Regions from separate parts of the Homo sapiens genome. Here region 2 is linked to region 1. The links come from fine-mapping of genetic effects on gene expression. A gene starts in region 1. The other region holds a variant in brackets. All regions are shown on one strand. Distances are between the middles of the regions.

Region 1 (9,933 bases):
TCTATTCGAGTGACAATACAATATTTAAAAATAAAATAGCCAAATGCAACAAAAGCCATTGGATATTTCTGGAAGTTTTGTATGTTTGTTATTGTTTATTTGTTTTTAAAAGTCAAGGACACAAGTCACCTAAATAATTTTCTGTGCTAAAGCACAATTAGGTGACATTAGAATCTGTCATCTGAGCACAAAAGTTAGACAGTAATCTTTACTACCTCTTGTGAAGATAAAATAGAGTGGTTCACTCTATTATTTCATACCTGATAGTATGATGATGATCTGGAGAACTAATAAGATTATTTTTGATGTACTAGGTTTTAGAAAACAGTAATTTGTGCATTTTTTGTGAGATTTTCATAAGGAAATGGGTTTAATGTGATTTTCATTATGAAATGGTTAAAAGAAAGACTTCCACAGACATTGACTACACTGATACCTGCCCTTCCATAATGTAGATGATGAACTTAGCTTTCAAAAACAGTTTTCGGTGATGAAAATAATGCATTCCTTCATTTGTCAAAAAAGAAACAAACAAGCAAACCAACTTACTGAGGCCCCACTTAGTGCCATTAGGTCCTTGGGATACAGCAATGTACAGGTCAGAAAGATCTCTGCTCTAAGTTTTCTTGTATTATATTAGGGGAAGGAAACTGATAATAAATACAAAAACAAACAAGATACAATTTTAGATGATAAGTTTATGTGATAGTGAGTAATTAGTTGTTTGCATAAAAAATTCTACCTTCCAAAATATCACTACAAATACTTTAGTGTTTCTCATTCTATTATGTGTATGAAAGCATATTAAATAAATGAGATACTATTATACAGTTTTGTAACCTACTTCTTTCAATTAACAATATACAATATTGCAAGAATTTTTTTCATGTTATTATATATTCTCCCACAAAACTGTTTATTTGGCTACATGGAACGTACTACTTCGAATGAATATAATGTAATTTATTCACATTAATCACCTAGATTATCCCTTATTTTTCCTCATTATGATCAAGGATATAATGAACATCCAGGTTAATAAATCTTGTGTACATCTATAATCGTTTCTTGAGAATAAATTTCTTACATCAAAACTGTTGCCTCAAATGGTTATTTAAATTTCAAAAATTGGGCCAGTCATGGTGACACATGCCTGTAATCCCAGCACTTTGGCATGCTGAGACTGGCAGATCGCATGACCCCAGGAGTTTGAGACCAACCTGGGCAACATGGTGAAACCTGTCTCTATAAAATATACAAAAGATTAGCCAGGCATGGTGGCATGCGCCTGTAGTCCCAGCAAACCTGGGAGGCTGAGGTAGGAGGACCACCTGAGCCCAGGAGGTCGAGGTTACAGTGACCCACGATTCTGCCAATGCACACCAGCTTGGGTTGACAGAGCGAGACCCTGTCTCAAAAAAGAAAAAAAATCAAAAATTAAAACTGTGATGTACCTTTTAAAATAGTTTTCCCAAAATGCTGTATAATTTAGCCTCCCTCTGACTGTCGATAAGGTCTTTGGTTCACCTCATCCTTAATAGCACTGGATGATATCTTTTTCCTCCCGACTTTATGGGAGAAAAAAACTCATTTTCATTTTGACATCTATTATTTTTCTTTCTCTTTTTTTGAAGATACAATTCATGTATCATGAAATTCACCATTTTAAAGTGTTCAATTCAATGGTTTTCAGTATATTCACAAAGTTGTGTAATAACCATCACCACTATCTAATTCCGGAACTCTTTTATAGGTCCCAAAGGAAATCCCATACTCATTAGCAGTCACTGCCCATTTCCCTCTCCTTCAGCCCTGGCAACCACTAAGCTGCTTTCTGTTTCTATGGATTTGCCTACCCTAGGCATCTCATATAAATGGAATCATATAACACCTGGCCTTTTCTGTCTTTTTCCACTGAGCATAATGTTTCCAAGCTTCATCCATGTTGTAGCACGTATCAGTAATTCATTTCTGTTTATTGCCAAATAACATTTCATTGTATGGATATACCACAATTGATTTATCCATTCATCATTTGATGGACATCTGGCTTGTTTCCACATTTTGGTTATTATGAATAAAGCTGCTATGAACATTTATGTACATGTTTTCATGTGAATATATGTTTCCAATTCTCTTGGCTACATACCTAGGAGTGGAATTGCTGGGTTGTCTGGTGACTCTGTTTAATTTTAGAGTTAACTGTCAGACTGTTTTTATATTGACTACATCATTTTACCTTTCCACCAGCAATGTTTGAGGGTTCCACTTTTACCACATCTTCAACACTTATTATTTTTTGTTGTTGTTATTTCTTAATTATAGCTATCCTAGTGGGTGTAAAGTAGTATCTCATTGTTGTTTTGATTTGTATTTCTCTAATGTCTAATGATGTTGAGCCCCTTGTCATGTGTTTATTGGCTATTTGTATATTTTCTTTGGAGAAGTGTCTGTTCAAATCTTTTCCCATTTGAAAATTAGATTATTTGTTTGAATTGTAGGGAATACAAGTTATTTTACTGCGTGTAGCTGCTCCCCAGGTTTCTGGATGCCATTGTTAAAAAATATCATGACTTAGATTTTATCCCCGTGCTCCTGGAATCCTCAGGTTTCTGTGACACAGAGTTCAAGTGAGAGTTCAATCATTCTAGGGACTACTCAGCACCACAGTAGCACCTACAGAGATCATCTGGAGGGAGTGATTTTGTCTCAACAGACGGATCTTCAATGAAGATGAAACAAATCCATTTTGGAGAGAGATGTTAGAGAACTGATGGCGTTCAGGACATGCTACCCAAAAATAATGGTACCTTGGCACTTAAGAAAAGAGCAGAAGCAAGAGGGTTACTTTCACTTTCCCCAGATCTTCTCTTCTGAGGCAGACCATAAGACCTTCATTCCAGAGGTGCCTTCCCTATACCTGGAGGAAACAGACATCCTTATCTCTGAAGACACACGGACAGGGAAAAGAATCTGAGCAAATAGGCCTTGCTAAGTAAGTCCCCCCAGTTTATTACCATTAGATCACAGATTTGTCCAATCATACTTCTCCATGACTTCCACTTCTTTATCAATCCTAGCCTTAAAAATACACAGGCTTCCCTCTTAACTTTGGGTCTTAATTTCTGAAGTCTCCTGTTTTGTGTAAAACTCACATAAATAAGTTAGTATGTTTTTCTCTTGTTAATGTGTCTTTTGTTACAGGGGCTTCAGCCATAAACCTAGTAATGAATGGGGAAATTTTTTTTTTCCTCCTCTATAGAACATATACCAACTGCAAGAAGAAAGAAGAATATGCCTGGTTTTGGGCCTGGCGCGGTGGCTCACGCCTGTAATCCCAGTACTATGGGAGGCTGAGGCGGGCAGATCACCTGAGGTTGGGAGTTCGAGACCAGCCTGACCAACATGGAGAAACCCCGTCTCTACTAAAAATACAAAAAATTAGCCCTGCGTGGTGGTGGCGCATGCCTGTAATCCCAGCTATTCGGTAGGCTGAAGTAGGAGAATCGCTTGAACCCAGGAGGTGGAGGTTGCGGTGAGCCGAGATCGTGCCATTGATCTCCAGCCTGGGCAACAAGAGCAAAACTCTGTCTAAAAAAAATAAATAAATAATAAAAATAAAAACAGTATGCCTGGTTTTAAAGCTTCAAAGAATTTACTCATTCTCCTGTATGTAACATTCTAGAAATGCATCTGGAGTTAAAGCCTTCTTGGAGACTTAAGAACAAATGCACTTATGCATGGCCTTTTGAAACCTAATGTTTCTACAAGGAGGCACGTCCATACTTGCAACTCCTTCTAGAAGCTTCCCCAAATCTCCTGCCTCCCCACGCTGAGTTATCCGATGTCTGAAATGTCACAGCACTTAGTCTTACTCTTCTATGGCCTACTTTCTACTGCTATTTGTGTTACTCATGCTACCCATCTTATCTCCCTCAGTGTGTGAGACGCTGGCATCAGATTTGGCATCTCCCACACACTCAACATTATGTGTTGCACACAGTAGGTACTCAATACATGCAAGTTTTCTGAATAGATATTTTCCTAGTCATCTGTGGCACCTGCTATATCCTACTGAAAATTACCAAAATGCAATTAACTTCAATTTTACATTTGGGATTTACAGAAAATAACTCTCTCTCCAAGAAATGCATAACAATTTAGCTAGGGCAAATGCCAGGTCCGAGTTAAGACATTAATGCGCTTCGATCGCGATAAGGATTTATCCTTATCCCCATCCTCATCTTTCTGCGTCGTCTAATTCAAGATAGGTCAGTAAAGGAAACCTTTTCGTTTTAGCAACCCAATCTGCTCCCCTTCTCTGGCCTCTTTCTCTCCTTTTGTTGGTAGACGACTTCAGCCTCTGTCCTTTAATTTTAAAGTTTATGCCCCACTTGTACCCCTCGTCTTTTGGTGATTTAGAGATTTTCAAAGCCTGCTCTGACACAGACTCTTCCTTGGATTGCAACTTCTCTACTTTGGGGTGGAAACGGCTTCTCCGTTTTGAAACGCTAGCGGGGAAAAAATGGGGGAGAAAGTTGAGTTTAAACTTTTAAAAGTTGAGTCACGGCTGGTTGCGCAGCAAAAGCCCCGCAGTGTGGAGAAAGCCTAAACGTGGTTTGGGTGGTGCGGGGGTTGGGCGGGGGTGACTTTTGGGGGATAAGGGGCGGTGGAGCCCAGGGAATGCCAAAGCCCTGCCGCGGCCTCCGACGCGCGCCCCCCGCCCCTCGCCTCTCCCCCGCCCCCGACTGAGGCCGGGCTCCCCGCCGGACTGATGTCGCGCGCTTGCGTGTTGTGGCCGAACCGCCGAACTCAGAGGCCGGCCCCAGAAAACCCGAGCGAGTAGGGGGCGGCGCGCAGGAGGGAGGAGAACTGGGGGCGCGGGAGGCTGGTGGGTGTGGGGGGTGGAGATGTAGAAGATGTGACGCCGCGGCCCGGCGGGTGCCAGATTAGCGGACGCGGTGCCCGCGGTTGCAACGGGATCCCGGGCGCTGCAGCTTGGGAGGCGGCTCTCCCCAGGCGGCGTCCGCGGAGACACCCATCCGTGAACCCCAGGTCCCGGGCCGCCGGCTCGCCGCGCACCAGGGGCCGGCGGACAGAAGAGCGGCCGAGCGGCTCGAGGCTGGGGGACCGCGGGCGCGGCCGCGCGCTGCCGGGCGGGAGGCTGGGGGGCCGGGGCCGGGGCCGTGCCCCGGAGCGGGTCGGAGGCCGGGGCCGGGGCCGGGGGACGGCGGCTCCCCGCGCGGCTCCAGCGGCTCGGGGATCCCGGCCGGGCCCCGCAGGGACCATGGCAGCCGGGAGCATCACCACGCTGCCCGCCTTGCCCGAGGATGGCGGCAGCGGCGCCTTCCCGCCCGGCCACTTCAAGGACCCCAAGCGGCTGTACTGCAAAAACGGGGGCTTCTTCCTGCGCATCCACCCCGACGGCCGAGTTGACGGGGTCCGGGAGAAGAGCGACCCTCACAGTGAGTGCCGACCCGCTCTCTCCGCCTCATTTCCATTTCGTGGGTTCTCGCCCGCTCTCTCCCCTCCAGCCTGCACCCTCCTCCCGGATCTTCACTGCGACCCTAGCGCTCCGTGTGGTTTCTGGCCGCGCGGCCCTCGGCGGTTTCGGGTTCACCACTCACCCCCTCCTTTCCGGGCTGCGGCGTAGGCCCGGGTGTCCCCTGGGCTTTGGGGTGTGCCAATTTGCCCTGTAAACCAGTACCCCCGGCCCGGAGCCGCGGCGCGCCGGGGCCTCGCGGACTGGCTGTCTTCCCGCGGACAACCTGTCGCGTCGGGGATGCCCGCGGCCCCGCCATGCAGCTCTGGCCGCTTCTATCTGCTGCGTGCTGTCCCGGGGACAAAGACAGGAAGGACCGCAGCAGAACGAAACGGTCTTTACTGGAAAAACACCTTTCTAGAGTCCTGCCCTTAAATTCCGACTCGGGACGACCCGAGGCATATGGCACACTACTCTCACCCACTCTGTTTTATATTTTTCCGAATTGACGAAAGCTGAAAGAGCAAAAACAAAAACCAACCAGCCAACCAGCAAAAAATCCAGATGTTGTTAATAAAGTGCCATAGCTTTGTTTCAGTAGTGAAAAGAAGTGCAAACACTTTAATCTTCCACCTGCAGTGACTAGCTTTGAGACCTTGAGCCGACGCTTAACCCCAGAGCCGGTTTCCTCATCGCTCACGTGGGGCTAATATATTACTACCTTGCAGCAGGCTTGAGGATGAAATGAGAATTGCAGTTTTGCTTTCTGTAAGAAACAATGTTTGTGGTTCTAGAAAGAACACTGGCCTAAATAAGGAGTGCTTGGACTTTAGGGGATTCCCTAAGTCTGGAGTGGGGGCTGAAGATTTGCATTTCTAACATGTTCCCCGGGGATGCTGATCACATCACACTTTGAGAGCCACTGGTCTAGAGGAAAGAGAAAGAAAGGGGCATAAGATGAGCCGATTTACAACACTGATGGAATTTGAAGTGAGAGAAAGAGGACTAGAATATATTGTAACCTGTCCTCCTGTAAGTGTATGTAAACATGTGTTTTAAAAGCTGTGTGTTATGGCGTTCCTTCCTTTATGGGTTCCAGGTGGAGAATCTGATTCTCTCATTGCCTGAGAAAAGACCCACAGGGGTCCCAGCGCCACTCCCCTGTAGTTCTGCCTTTGTCTTGGGATGCTAATGGGATGTCATGAGGGGAGGTGGAGGGGGGCTGGAAGAGAAGAAAATTCTACAACCAAACGTGAATTGGCAGAAGAATGGGCAATACACTTTCATATGAGCTGAGTCTTTATTGCTTCCAAAATAGCAACCTGCAAGAGAGGCAAGTATTTAATTTTTTTCAGGCTTGCCATAATTTAAAAATTTTATCAATCACTTAATCCCGTAAAACTGAAAAGATGCTTGTAACCTATTAGATGGGTTAGTGCTAGTTCTCTATTCTGGTAACTTGAACTCATCTATTTCAAAAAATTATCTTTGTGATTGAAGTTTGTTCTGCAGTTGTCTGCTACGCCATCTCAGCTGACAAGGGCAAGGTGCTGTGTGTCCCAATTGGTTTTGTTCTTTCTAGTATCACAAATTATTTATTAAAAAGCATGTATTATGACCAGAAGACAGAAGAATTTCCCTTTAAATTAAATTAATATTTGGGGCTTCCCCTAATACTCTTTTTTTTTCAGACTCTATTAGTTGCTGAATCATTTTTTCTTTGAAGATTTTGATACCCGATTCGCCTTAGAATAAAACTATGTAGAGGTTAGCCAGTGGACATAATTTTGAATTGCATACCACATTACCACCGTTGTAAAAACAACCGTTAACTTTTTCTTCCTAACTGTGAGTTGGGTTTTCATTTTTGTAATCTTACTTTAACTCTGTGGTTCTCAAATGGGGACGATTTTGCCTCCCAGGGGACATTTGACAATGCCTGGAGACATTTTTGGTTGCTGTAACCTGGAAGGGTGCTACTGGCATCTGGCAGGTAGAGGCCGGGGATGCTGCTGAACATCCTACAATACACATTATAATACCCTCAACAAAAACATTTTTGACCCCAAATGTCACTAGTACTCAGGTTGAGAACTCTGCTAACTTTATAACTAGCTAAGGACAAGACATTAAAAGGGAAATGTAGAATAACTCATCCAGACTTGTGGAGACTACCAATTTTTTTAAAATTTTTTATTTCTATAGGGTTTTAGGGACCAGGTGGTAGTTGGTTACATGAGTAAGTTCTTTAGTGGTGATTTGTGAAATTTTGTTGCACCCATCACCCAAGCAGTATACACTGAATCCAGTTTGTAGTCCTGTCCCTCCCCAACTTCCCACCCTTTCTTCCCAAGTCCCCAAAGAGACTACTCTTTTTTTAAAGGATACCTGTACCAGGCAATAGACTGACAAGAATACAAATCTAAAAATGACAAATTTCATCTATTTCTATGTAGCCCAACCTGGACATAAATTTAAGTACAGTATATTATTTTCTCACATATTGGATGTTTACTGATAGTTGACCAAACCATGAGGAGACCCCCCAAAACAAATAAAACTGACCAGAAAACATGGAGAAGAGTTAATAGTAGCCACAGTTTCCTACTACATTATGGCTCAGATTTCTAGACCTGTTTGAAAAGTTGAAAAATCTATGGTCTCATTCCTCAGACTGTTTTGTCCAACTGACCTGAACATCTGTCACTGGAATTTTTTTTCCTTTGGCATGACACTTTGTGCCTACATGTTTTCTAAACTGCAGGTAACTTTTGAAAGGCCAAGTTCAACCATTATCAGATTTTAACATTTAGTATGGATTAAATTGTGAGTGCAATTTCTTCCCCAAAAGCTGGCCAGAAGGACTGGAGTTTGGGGAGGGATGCTTTGAAGACTGTGATATAAATGATGGGGTCCTGGAGAGGTGCAGGGGAAGAGGAGGCAGAGTGGGAAGCTGTGAGGTAGGAAAGAGAGGAAAATTTTCTAAAAGAAGAGGTAGGAGAAGATGACACAACACAAATGTTTCCAATTTTTCAGTGTTGCTGAAGGTCAACTGTGCTTCACACCTGGGCATTCTCCTGAATTTGCACTCAAAAGGGCCCATTTTCTGGCGTTTTTCTCATAGTCCTGGAATAATCTTCATTTGACATGAGAGTCTTGATAAAAACAAGATGTTAAAAGTGGTTAGAGAGTTTCTCCTTCTCCAGCATGTGCGCTGCACTCCTGCCTTTCTTTTGGCATCCTTAACTTTTGGCAGGCCTCTTTCAATGCGGTGGGAATGGATAATATTAAGTATGTACTCTAAAGTAGCAAGCTGTGTAAAAACATTCAGAAGAGAGAACACTTTATCCCAAGCAGCACGTACAACATGTGGTAGAGTATAGTAAGTGAAATGTATGCTGCTTATGTACACTTAGTATTCAATTTATTCCAGGTGCTCTTATTTACAAAAAAAAAAAAAAAAAAAAAAAATGAGAGTAGTTAGAAGTACTGTATCTACCCTTGGGCTTCTCCCAGGAGGTGACTGCCTGTGTGCCACACTTCTTTGCTTGCAGGCTCCAGAGGACGCTGAGACTTGGAAAGGCAGACCTGCCCACCCCAGTGTGGAGCAGGGGTGGCTTGTAGGTGGGCCTGACCCCTGGGCTCTTTGCTACTGCATGTGTTCCATGCAACCCCAAGCATAAAAACATGGACTTGTGAAATCAAAGGGAGGCTTCAGACCTTCTGGTTTACCCATCTCTTTTTACAGAAGAGGATACTGAAGCTCAGAAAAGTCACCAATTACTCAAGTTCACTTGTGGGTTTCCTCTTTTTTTATCCTGAATGAGCTTCTTACCACCTGGTCCCTTGCCTTCTCTTCCTGCCATCCCTCAGCCTCAGTGCGCTCTTCATTCCACCATAGAGTGTGCCCTGCTGGACCCCACTTTGGTTAGGCTTCCTCCATTTCAGGGTAGTGAGCTGCTAGCCCCTTTGAAGAGTTCTTACTAGTTTACGGGTGCCTCAGGTTGATTTCCTGGGGTTTTGGATAAAGCCACCTTTCCATCTCTTCACTACTGCCTTTGGGGTAAATAGAACCATTGATTTAATAATACACGTACTAGATTCTCTCCCCCCACCTCTCTTTGGTAATATCTGGCAAGTGGATAGCAATAATTTTACTTAATGAACGTGATATTTACTGTAATAAATATTGGGTGCAGTAAACAAATGAAGTCAGAATCTAATAGCTCATTTAATCTTGGAAATCATGTAATCAGTACAGCAATGAAAGGACAATTCATGAGTCATAGATATTACCACACCTTAGGAGCCTTTTAAGATGAGTTTGATGCCAAGTGACTTCAGCCTAGAAAAGGCAATATCCCCTCATGACATGCCCTGAGGGGTTTCATTTGTTTATAAAATGACCGTTATGTAATTAGACTTTGACAATGGTGTAACAATTGGGTTTT
Region 2 (9,933 bases), 320 kb after region 1:
TAGAATTTTTAATCAGACTCAAACCTTACCAGTGAAATGGGAATACTCTTTACATTATCCACCTAAAATGTTCCTATTAACCATGTGGTTTTAAGAGGTATTTAAATTTTGGAATTTTTAATAGCTATCTGTTTCTTCTGTAACTTTGATTATATTATAGCTTTTCTTGAATGAGGAGATAAAACAGATGTAAATATTAAGACAAAAGCTTGATGCCTATGAAACAAATTATTTCCAAGTACATAGAGTGAAAATACTTTAAAAGCCTTTGAATTTGGCAACTTTCTCTTTGCATTCCCTTTCCTGATTCTGTAGCAATCACTGTCTTGTTCTTAATGAACTGGTACTCAAAGGTCATTCAGAAACATTCATTAAAACCAGTAGGGAAATAATTCTACAGACTTCCTTTAACCAACCTGTAGTTTTGTTTTCTTTCTTAATAGCCTCAGGTCTCAGACACAACCATCTTTTATTTATTTTTTCTTTCTTTCTGGAATCAAATAACTTTTAAAGATTTGAGAAAATCAGCACCAATATTTGAAGATTAAAACTTGATCCATCTGTCAGTTAGAATTTTGATTTGGAAAAGCCACAGGTAACAGTGTAAATTCTAGTTTTACAAATGTAGTAATAAAGAATATACTTCAGTGGCAATTTAAACTTCATATTAGTGAATTAAGATACTCAGTAAGTTTCAGGGTATTAGATTGATAAAGCAATACCTGGATTAATGACTAGTCATTATGAGGTGTACTTTTATCTTTCATTTAAGTCAAAACTTATGTTGCATTACATGCTTTACAAAAATTGCCACATTATTACATTATGGTTTGGCCATAAATAGGAGCAATTTTGGGAACCATTTATTTTGTGAATGGTTACTGATTTTCTGAATCATTCAAGTTCTACATTCTATTAAATTTTATAAGCCTATTATTTAATATGAGCTTTTTCTGTTTTCAGACTGATACCCATTATTTTTCAGTCATAGCAGAGAAATAGGTTTCCAGGATAAAACAAATTGTTCAGGTATTCAAGCAGCCCTCAGGAGTAGGCAAATATCAACAGATAGGTCACTGAGAGATCAAGGGATTTACTCTTTTCTTTGGTATACCATAGTTCTTGAAGGCTAAAATTTTGGTAACTGTTTCAGGAAAATAAATACTGTACTATATTTCGTTTCTTTCCTTCAATCCTGATATGTAAAGTAAACAAACCTGTTTTCAGAATATCTAACCTTTAGTTGAGTAAATGACAGGTAGGAAATAAAGCTGTTGATACGGGAGAATGAGTAAGTGAAAAAATCCATCCTTTGTCAACCACTCTTATTTTTTAAATTGAATCTGCTTTCAGTTTCAGTAGTTGGGAGTGCTAGATGTACATAGCTTAATGGATTTGGTGCTTAAAATTCTGGTTTTCTTCTTTTACTTACATTCCAACATCACAATAGAAAATAATGCAAATAGCCTTCTAAATGATTGATATATGATGATATGTTAGGCTTATTTATTGAGTCAATGCTTCACACCTGTTCTGTGTCACAACACCTCCCTTAGAGGATAAGGTTTTTTTTTTTTTAAAAAAGCGATTCTTTCTTGTAATGCCACAGGCATTATAAATCTCTCAATTGAAAAATACTGAATTAAATTTGCTTCTTATTTAAAACTACTTAAGGGTAACCCTTTGTATACTTGTTTTTTAAAGTTGATTGCTTATTATCACATTGCTCTATGTGTATTCCCATTTTTTAAACTTTGACAAGATACTAATTTTTATATTCATGGTAATAATAATCTTAACATTATATAACATTTTCACAATATGGAGTTTACTGAAAACAAATCTAAAATTTTACATTTAAGTTCACTAAAGTAACACTTGTAGGATGAGAAAGATTTTACTTGTTTGGTGGTACATGGAAATTTGACCCCACATGGAACAAAAGTTAACATTGTCATGAAACTACTAAAAAAAATGCTCGTGTCATTTTAGCCTACATTAATTATAGCATCTAGATTGCATAACTAATAACTTCATAGTATTCTGTCCTGGTGAGATGACATCTAGAATATAACACACAATTTTGAGATTTCATGATTTGCAACTAATTTTGGACATAACAGGCAAGGTCCACAGCATATTTTTACCATGGATAATAGAATGTAAAATAGTTACTGTTTTCATGTGTTTAAAAGTCTGTTCTCTAGAAAAGACATGATTTTAAAAGAAAGTTTCTAGCAAAACAAAAAGAATAACTTTGTGGTGAATTGGAATTTTTCACTAGGGGACTTGCTTGTTCTGGTAGGCATTGATCTCCCAGTTGTTCTGGGTGCTTTTAAAAATTATATTACATTTCTGCTGCATTGACTAGGAAGTTAAAATTAGCCAGGCATGGTGGCGTGGGCCTGTAGTCCCAGCTACTCAGGAGACTGAGGCAGAAGAATCGCTTGAACCCAGAGGCGGAGGTTGCAGTGAGCCAAAATTGCCCCACTGCACTCTCCAGTCTGGGTGACAGAGCGAGACTCGGTCTCAAAAACAAAACAAAACAAACAAACAAAAAAACAGTGTTACTCTATAGTGTACTGTGTTGCCAGATTTGTTTTGCCCACCTGTAGGCTAATGTAAGTATTCTGAGCATGTTTAAGTTAGGCTGGGCTAAGCTATGATGTTCAGTAGGGTAGGTATGTTAAATATTTTTTTGATTTAATATTTTGAGCTTGATGGGTTTATCAGAATGGAACTCCGTTGTAAGTAGAGGCTCGATCTGCATCTTTGGAGAAACGTCTATGCAAGTTTTTTGCCCACTTTTGAGCTGGGTTGTTTGTTTTTTGTTTGTTGTTGTTGGGTTTTAGGTATTCCCTATATATTCTGGATATTAATCCCTTATCAGATAGATGATTTGCAAACATTTTCTTTCATTCTGTGGGTTGCCTTTTTACTCACTTGCCACTTTTTTGTAGCAAACGTGACCCCTCCTAAAAGGGGGGATATATGTATTTTAAGACCATTCCTTGGCAGTATTGTCCTTAGAGCTTTAGGTTGACTATTTGAATTCGTATGGTCTTTGACTCATCTCATCATCTAAAACTCCTTGATGTTTTCCTCCTTTCTTTAATGTTATATAGACACAACTGGGACAGCTGACAGTGAATATAGGTTATATTTTTGCGAAGAATTTAGCAAGAGAGGTTGGCTGTTTGGCATTAAATATCTGTATCACTGTGAAGTTTTTAATTGTTTTTGGATACTAATTATCACTGAACATGACCTAGAACAATACCTTATTACATAGAGTTACTCATTTGTCAAATGTAGGAATGAATGTATGTATGCATGCATGTAAGTACACATGCATATAGCCTTGGTAGTTACTACAGTGCTATCATAGATGTAAAGTCTTTCACAGGCCTGGGTAGACAGCAGTCATGTTTTATTCATGGCCTAGTCTAGCATGGTTCCTGGTACTCTTAAGTTTTGGTGAATGTTCGTCATATAAATAAATATATTTAATTTAGAAAGCATCAGAAAAACTAACATTTGGATAAAGCAGATATAATTTTGTATTATATATGTGAGTAATTTTCTTTCATCTTTAAATTGTCATATTTCCAAGGAATCTATTCATTGTTGATTTCATGTCCCTCTTAAACAACTTGAGATACGTTAACTTTGGTAATCTGTCATAGACTTCACTTCATTCTGTGGCCTTTAATTTAAGAGAATGGTAGTTCTTTAGATGCTCTCTCAGGGTTAATCTCCCAACAGCTGGAAAACCAAGAATGGCTGTGAAAAGTACTTCTTTACCTAATACAGGATTGCATAACTACTTGCTTTTCCCTTAAAAATAATCTGCAGTATACATGGATCTTAAAATAGGAATGATAACTCTTTTGTAGAAATATTAGGGGATCAGAAGAGATAATTTATACGAATCATTTGGCTTACAATTTGTTGTAAAGTGAGGCCTTGAGACGCAATAGCTATTACAGGGTGAGCATTCTAAGTTGGAAAATTCAAGACCTGAAATGCTCCAAAATTTGAAACTTTTGAGTTCTAACATAATGCTTGAAGGAAATGCTCATTGGAGCATTTAGGATTTTGGATTTTAAGGTTTGGGATGCTCAACCCTAAACCAGTAAGTATGTATAATGCAAATATTACAAAATCCAAAAAAAATCTGAAATCTGAAACACTCTGGTCCCAAGCAATTCAGATAAGGGGTATTCACCCTGTATTATTAGTTTTTCCAGAAAAAAAAAAGAAAGATTATCAAAGATACACACCCGACTTTAGCACTAAAATTTTTAAGTTGTTGTACCTTCAATTGCTTTATTTTTCCCTTTCAATTCTAATGTTAAAAAATGTAATCCTGTTTTACAAAATATTTCAGCAAGTTTTCAGCAGTCGTCGCTATTACATTAACTATAAATAATCTTTTGGGAGACCTATCAACATCTACTTTCTCTTTCACAATTTGATAATTAACGTATATCACATCTGTGCCTTTCTTTCTAGGGATTTCCAAGATCTGATGGAATTTGCAATGGTTGATGTATATATGGCTCTTATCCATTGTCAGTAACCCACCTTCTTATGAGCTTTTCCAATTTTCGGGCAAATAACTAAGTACAGTATTTGTGCTGATATAGGTACAAGAGTTTAAAGAAGGCATGACTTAAGTGTTACTAAGAGGAAATAAGGAGAAATTATGTTAATAAATTGGCATTATATACTAATAAAGTTAGTCTCCAATCTGTGGAAACATGAAGAATAGAATGTAATGCTTTGCATTTCTCGGTGGATGAATGATTTTAAAATTTCATACATGGGGGAGAAAATAAAAATACTCCTGAACCCAAAGCTTGACTTCATTCAGGGATATGCATAAACTTCTCTCTCTTTTTTTTTTTTTTTTCCTTTAACCTGAAAGGACATTTAGAAAGCTAAATCTATTTTTCCTTCTTTTCAGTCAGAAAGTCAGGCCTCACCAGCAACAGACTACTGGTGTTTTGTAAGGGCTATATAATGTTTTCATCGTAATGCTATATAATGTTTTCATCTTTGTATTCGTTAGCCCAGACTTTTTGTTTAGTACTAGGAAGTATTTCCACAGATGTTGAGTGAGTGGATAAATGAATTAACTTGTGTGGTATACCTGGGGAAAAGGCAGTAAATGGGTAGAAAAACTCAAGAATAATCTACACCTATGGGGTTGACAACTTTTCCAGTTGCTCTAGGAATTACTGTAATCATTTTCTTTCTGTTATACTGCCTTATAGATCTGATGGAAATTTTGAAAAGAGCGTGTTCTCATTGTTTAGCTCTATATATCTGTTGGCTTCATTTGCTTTTAATATTTTTTTCTAATAGATACCTTTCTGGCTTGCACAGCAAAGTTCAATTAATGTAAGGATAAAATGTAAATTATCTAATTCAGCTTATTTACATGCTGTAAGTAATATA[G/A]TAATGCTAACTGGGCTTTCCTTGGCTTTTGTTTCATTGTGATCTGAGCTCAGATTATAGTTTGATCTGCTATGCACTGACCTGGGTGCCAGATGCAAGGGAAGCCAGTAAATAATACTATAAAGAGAGATGCTAGCTTTAGTTTTGAAAGGACGATGACTTGTAAGTGAGACTGTTGTAAACCACACAGTAATTAAAAAGCTCCATAATTAAAAGGGATATTTCCTTTCTTTAACCTGTCTTAAATGTTAGATATGATTAAAAGCAAAAGCATTTCTCTCAATAAAGTTGGGGGAAAAGTACTTGTTTTTATAGTCAGTTTTTGAAACATAGGAAAAGTGACCTCAAAGAACCTGTGTTGTAAAATTTTCAGAGTCATAGGAACTTGAACTTTGTTTCTTGATTACTTGATGAAATTGGTCATACTAGTTTATGAATAGTTCTGAATGGCCTTGTAGTCTTCTGTTGGTTTTGGTTTCATCTTTCAGTAGATGGACCTGTGGAAAAGTGGAACTGGCTTTGAAAATGTACTGGAAGCAATTATTTTCCTAAGACAATAATTTTTTTTCTCTTTTCCATTTTCTTTAGAACATACAGGCTAGAAGATCCACTCAGCATTTAATGCATATGACTTTACATTGCTGTTTATCTTTTTGTTTATCCCGAAATTGGAAGCTTCTAAAAGGCAGAGATTCACTCTCTTCCTGTGGTGGTTCTAGAGGCTGTGCCTTGCATAGAGTTAATTTTTAAAAAATAATTAATAATTATTTTTCTTACCATTTCTATTACTCATTTTTCAATTTGGAGAATAATTTTACCTGGCCACACTGATGGAACTTGCATACATGGGCCAGCTCTTTTACTCAGTTGCCCAATTTTTGAATGAAACTGAAAACTGTGGACAGATACATCAGGGAAGAGGAACATACAGAGTAAAAGACATAAAAGCCTTAAAGTTGGCTTCAGTTTCTTCATTTCATCTTGTAAATTACACAGGAGTCCTTCAGATAAAACTCACTGGTTATATGACAAATTAAGCAATTAGATTACTGCACACCTAATAATAGTAGCAAATAATGCACTTTCAATCTGCTAATATGTTAAGCACTTTTCATTATCTCTTCCTTTTACATGAGGGGAATCTGAAGTTTAGGGAATTTAAAACTTCCACAAAGTTAGTAGTCAGTAGTTTATATACTAGTATTAAATCTGTTTAAATCCAAAGCCGGTGACATTAACAGTTTCCAAACGATAATAACAAAAGTGAAAAATGTTAGTATCATTCCTTGAGAATTCACTACATAAAATTCTCTTCCAAATATTTACTCATTTTATAGATTAGGAAACTGATCCCCAATGAGGTATATCCTTTTGGTATATTGGTTAAAGAATAATATGTCTACTTGAGAGTGGCATCCTAATTACTGAAAACTGGACTACGAACTTTTAAAGTTTAATTAACAGTAATTTAATGTATTTTTATGTTATTTCTTAATCTTTGGATTATTTTTTCTTTTTGGAGGTTGTGTATACTCTGAATACTTATAGCAGTACTTCAGAACAATTTAGAACATATTTGTACTTCTAATGCAAATTTAATGTCTAGAATCCTGTTAACACATGTGATAAATGCCAACAGAAAGAGATTGATTTGCTGTCATGAATTAGACTGACAGATTTCTCAACAACACTAGATGCAAGAGGCCACTAAATAGGAAACTAACTTTGAACCTAAGATTTTATCCAACTAACTTATTTAAATATGAGGGAGAAGTAAGGATATTTGCTCATATACAAGATCTCAGAAAACTTACTGTACCAACACTATTTCTGAAAAGCACCAGGCAAGAAAAGTATGTCCAGAAGGAACTAGTGAGATATAGTTAGTAAAAGGAAATAAAGAACCCAAGAAAGGGTATAGTTTTATAGCCACACAATGGGGAGAAAAACGGAAAAGAAGGGGAAGAAAAGAAATAAGAGCCAAGTAATTTGTTGGCTTAGAATTAAAACTCCAGGTAATATTAGTCTTTCAGCAGTTATGGGGACAAGATGGGTAAGGAAGTCAGTTAGAGATCAGAGTAGGTGAAAATTTTGAGGTTCTTGTATTCATCAGGGAAAGTATTTATGAACTTTAGACACTAACAGTGAAAAATATGCATAGTTATGAAACTCAAAATTAAGCTCTCTGTTTAATAATAGACATCAGAGATAACATGAACAGATACTGATAAATTGAGAAAAGAGCTTCAGTACCAAACGAAACAAAGAACACAGATTTCCAGGTGCTTTTTTATCTGAACATGTTGCAGCACCATTGGAACCATTGTGTCACTTTAACCAAGCCTCCAATATTTTTATTCTTTCAGATCACAAGGGGTGGATGCCAAACCTCTCATTTTTTTCCCTCATGATTACACTACAAGGCAAAGCGCACAGGGTTTGAGTTCGTTGCAGTTGCTAGGGACATACACCTAGGGACTGACTACTAGGGCAACCTATGCTGTCATGTCACATTGTTCATAAGTCTTCCGTGAGCAAAGATCTGTCCCAACAAATGCCCCATACTCCTTTCACTTCCAAGTTATTTTCTATCCTAAACAATTTTTCCTTCCTTTATACTGGAAACTCCAAGATCTATAACATTTTATGATAAACTTGATCTTATTTTATATTATATATTTGTGTTCCCATTTCACTCTTCTGTTATCTTACTCTAACACTTAAATGCTGTATGATCAAAGTTAACTAATTTCTTAAATTTAATGAATCTCTTTAAACCAGGAGATGTCATGTCTTGGTTGTGCATGGTATACATAGGAATGATAGTTTAAGGAAACCCATTTCTAGATCTTTAGTGCCTAAAACTGATCTGCTTGAGAATTCACTTGTGATGGGGGTGGAAGTTTCTCTTCTCCAAACTCCTCTTTACCTCTGAAGCATCAAACAAGTGGGCAGTGGGAAATACAGGTATTACGTTTGAGAGAATAGATGGCACTAAAGCCATCTATTATTAAACTGGTACTCAGTACCAGTTTACTGAGTGTGGTCTGAAGATCATAATAATTACCATTTGCCTTTTTCATTCTTATTTTCTCAGTAGTTACAATTAAAAAAGATTTTCAGTTGTTATCTGTCATCATTCCTGATATATAATATAGACAGATTTCAAATACTTGAGGAATATGATTAGAACAGAATTACTTCTCGCTTATTTGTATGAACAAGGTTTCTCTGTACTTTATTCCACAAATTTTTTTTAGAAATTGAAATAGAATCTAAAAAATTGAATTGTAGCAATAAGTAATAGTTTACAATGTCTATAAAAATTCACTGGGGAGGGAGACTAATAAGAGGATTCCAGCTGTCTCATTAAGAAACGAACTTTCTATAACCTTAATGTTTAATTATATTTTCCAAAAATCATTAATACATTTATGTAATTGTACATGAATCATTGTAATGCTCATTCAATCCAGAAGAAACGTAATACTTAGAACCTTATGTTCATATGAGTGAACACTTTTTAAAATTTCAAAATATGTGCATATTTTTCTAAGAATTATTACAAGATGATCAGAGAAAGAAGGAAATTCTATTGGGATAGTAGAGTAGAAGTACAAATTCAAGGAGAAAAAAAGAGCAGTGTAAAATTTCTCAAAGATATCTTTTAAATAGATGGTAGTGTTAAATCACTGTATATTTAAATCTGTTGAATATGTTGAAAGAGTTGATGTAAAGGTCTTATTTTAAAATCTCAATATTTACAAAACTCTGGAAATTACATCCTTTACCACTATTTAAACATGGGTACATGTGAGAAGGCAAAAATCTCAATTTTCTTTTTTAAGTATACATACAGTTCCTTTTTAGCACTAAGAGCTACGTGTGCATAATGATTGAGACCAGAACTCCACATTTTGTTGAAAAGTGGGGAGTGAGGGGGAGAGAGAGAAATGCTTTTAAAATTAAACAATGAAACTTTTCCGGGGAGTAGTGAAGAGTGGGTGGTTATAAAATGACTTGGAAGCAGATCAGCTGGAAAGGTGAAAGAATCAGAAAGCAAATATAGCAGTGGATAATGGAGTTGATCTGTAGCTAGCCTATAGCAACTGCCTTTACTATATTTTAATATGTGCCATTAAGTGTGTCTCTTGATTGCTTCTGCTTTCTGCCAGTATGGCTTACTGTTGTAACTAGAGTTAGTTAGCTGGCCCACTGATACCACCACCAGAGCCTTTTCTAATCTATTATAGATTTCTAACGTGGGATAGGAGGCCAACAATGTTTCTTTGATTACAAATAGGAGGTACATACCTTGCCAAAAATTTGCAACATGATAGAATTGAAGTCAGTACAGAACACACACACACTCTATTTTTTTTTTTTTTTTTGAGACAGAGTCTCGCTCTGTCGACCAGGCTGGAGTGCAGTGGCACGATCTTGGCTCACTGCAACCTCTGTCTCCCGGGC

Which allele goes with the higher level. Alleles are on the strand shown, and positions count from the first base shown. SD is a standard deviation of normalised expression in the study named.
For the expression in subcutaneous fat of the gene that starts at base 4,944 in region 1, A is the low allele of the variant in region 2 and G is the other (large effect, 1.2 SD a copy in FUSION).

Evidence for each region. PIP is the estimated chance that this variant, and not a neighbour inherited with it, causes the effect. A credible set is the group of variants that fine-mapping cannot tell apart.
Region 2: its variant is the best candidate, but not a certain one, in a credible set for the expression of FGF2 in subcutaneous fat (FUSION, PIP 0.53).

The regions. Positions count from the first base shown.
Region 1 is chr4:122,821,888-122,831,820 of GRCh38, forward strand. It overlaps FGF2 (fibroblast growth factor 2), which reads left to right and starts at 4,944. Exons shown (of 3, transcript NM_001361665.2): 1 at 4,944-5,465. The coding sequence starts at 5,288. RefSeq lists promoters at 3,803-4,985, 4,154-5,121, cis regulatory regions at 4,178-4,248, 4,249-4,287, silencers at 4,787-5,266, 5,607-5,901 and enhancers at 5,487-5,566, 5,849-6,374, 6,247-6,386, 6,375-6,900, 6,427-6,476.
Region 2 is chr4:123,138,933-123,148,865 of GRCh38, forward strand. The region is part of intron 14 of AFG2A (AAA ATPase AFG2A); the gene reads left to right. Among named protein-coding and RNA genes, the nearest start is that of AFG2A, 220 kb to the left of the region's middle. The variant G/A (reference allele first, on the strand shown) is at 5,464.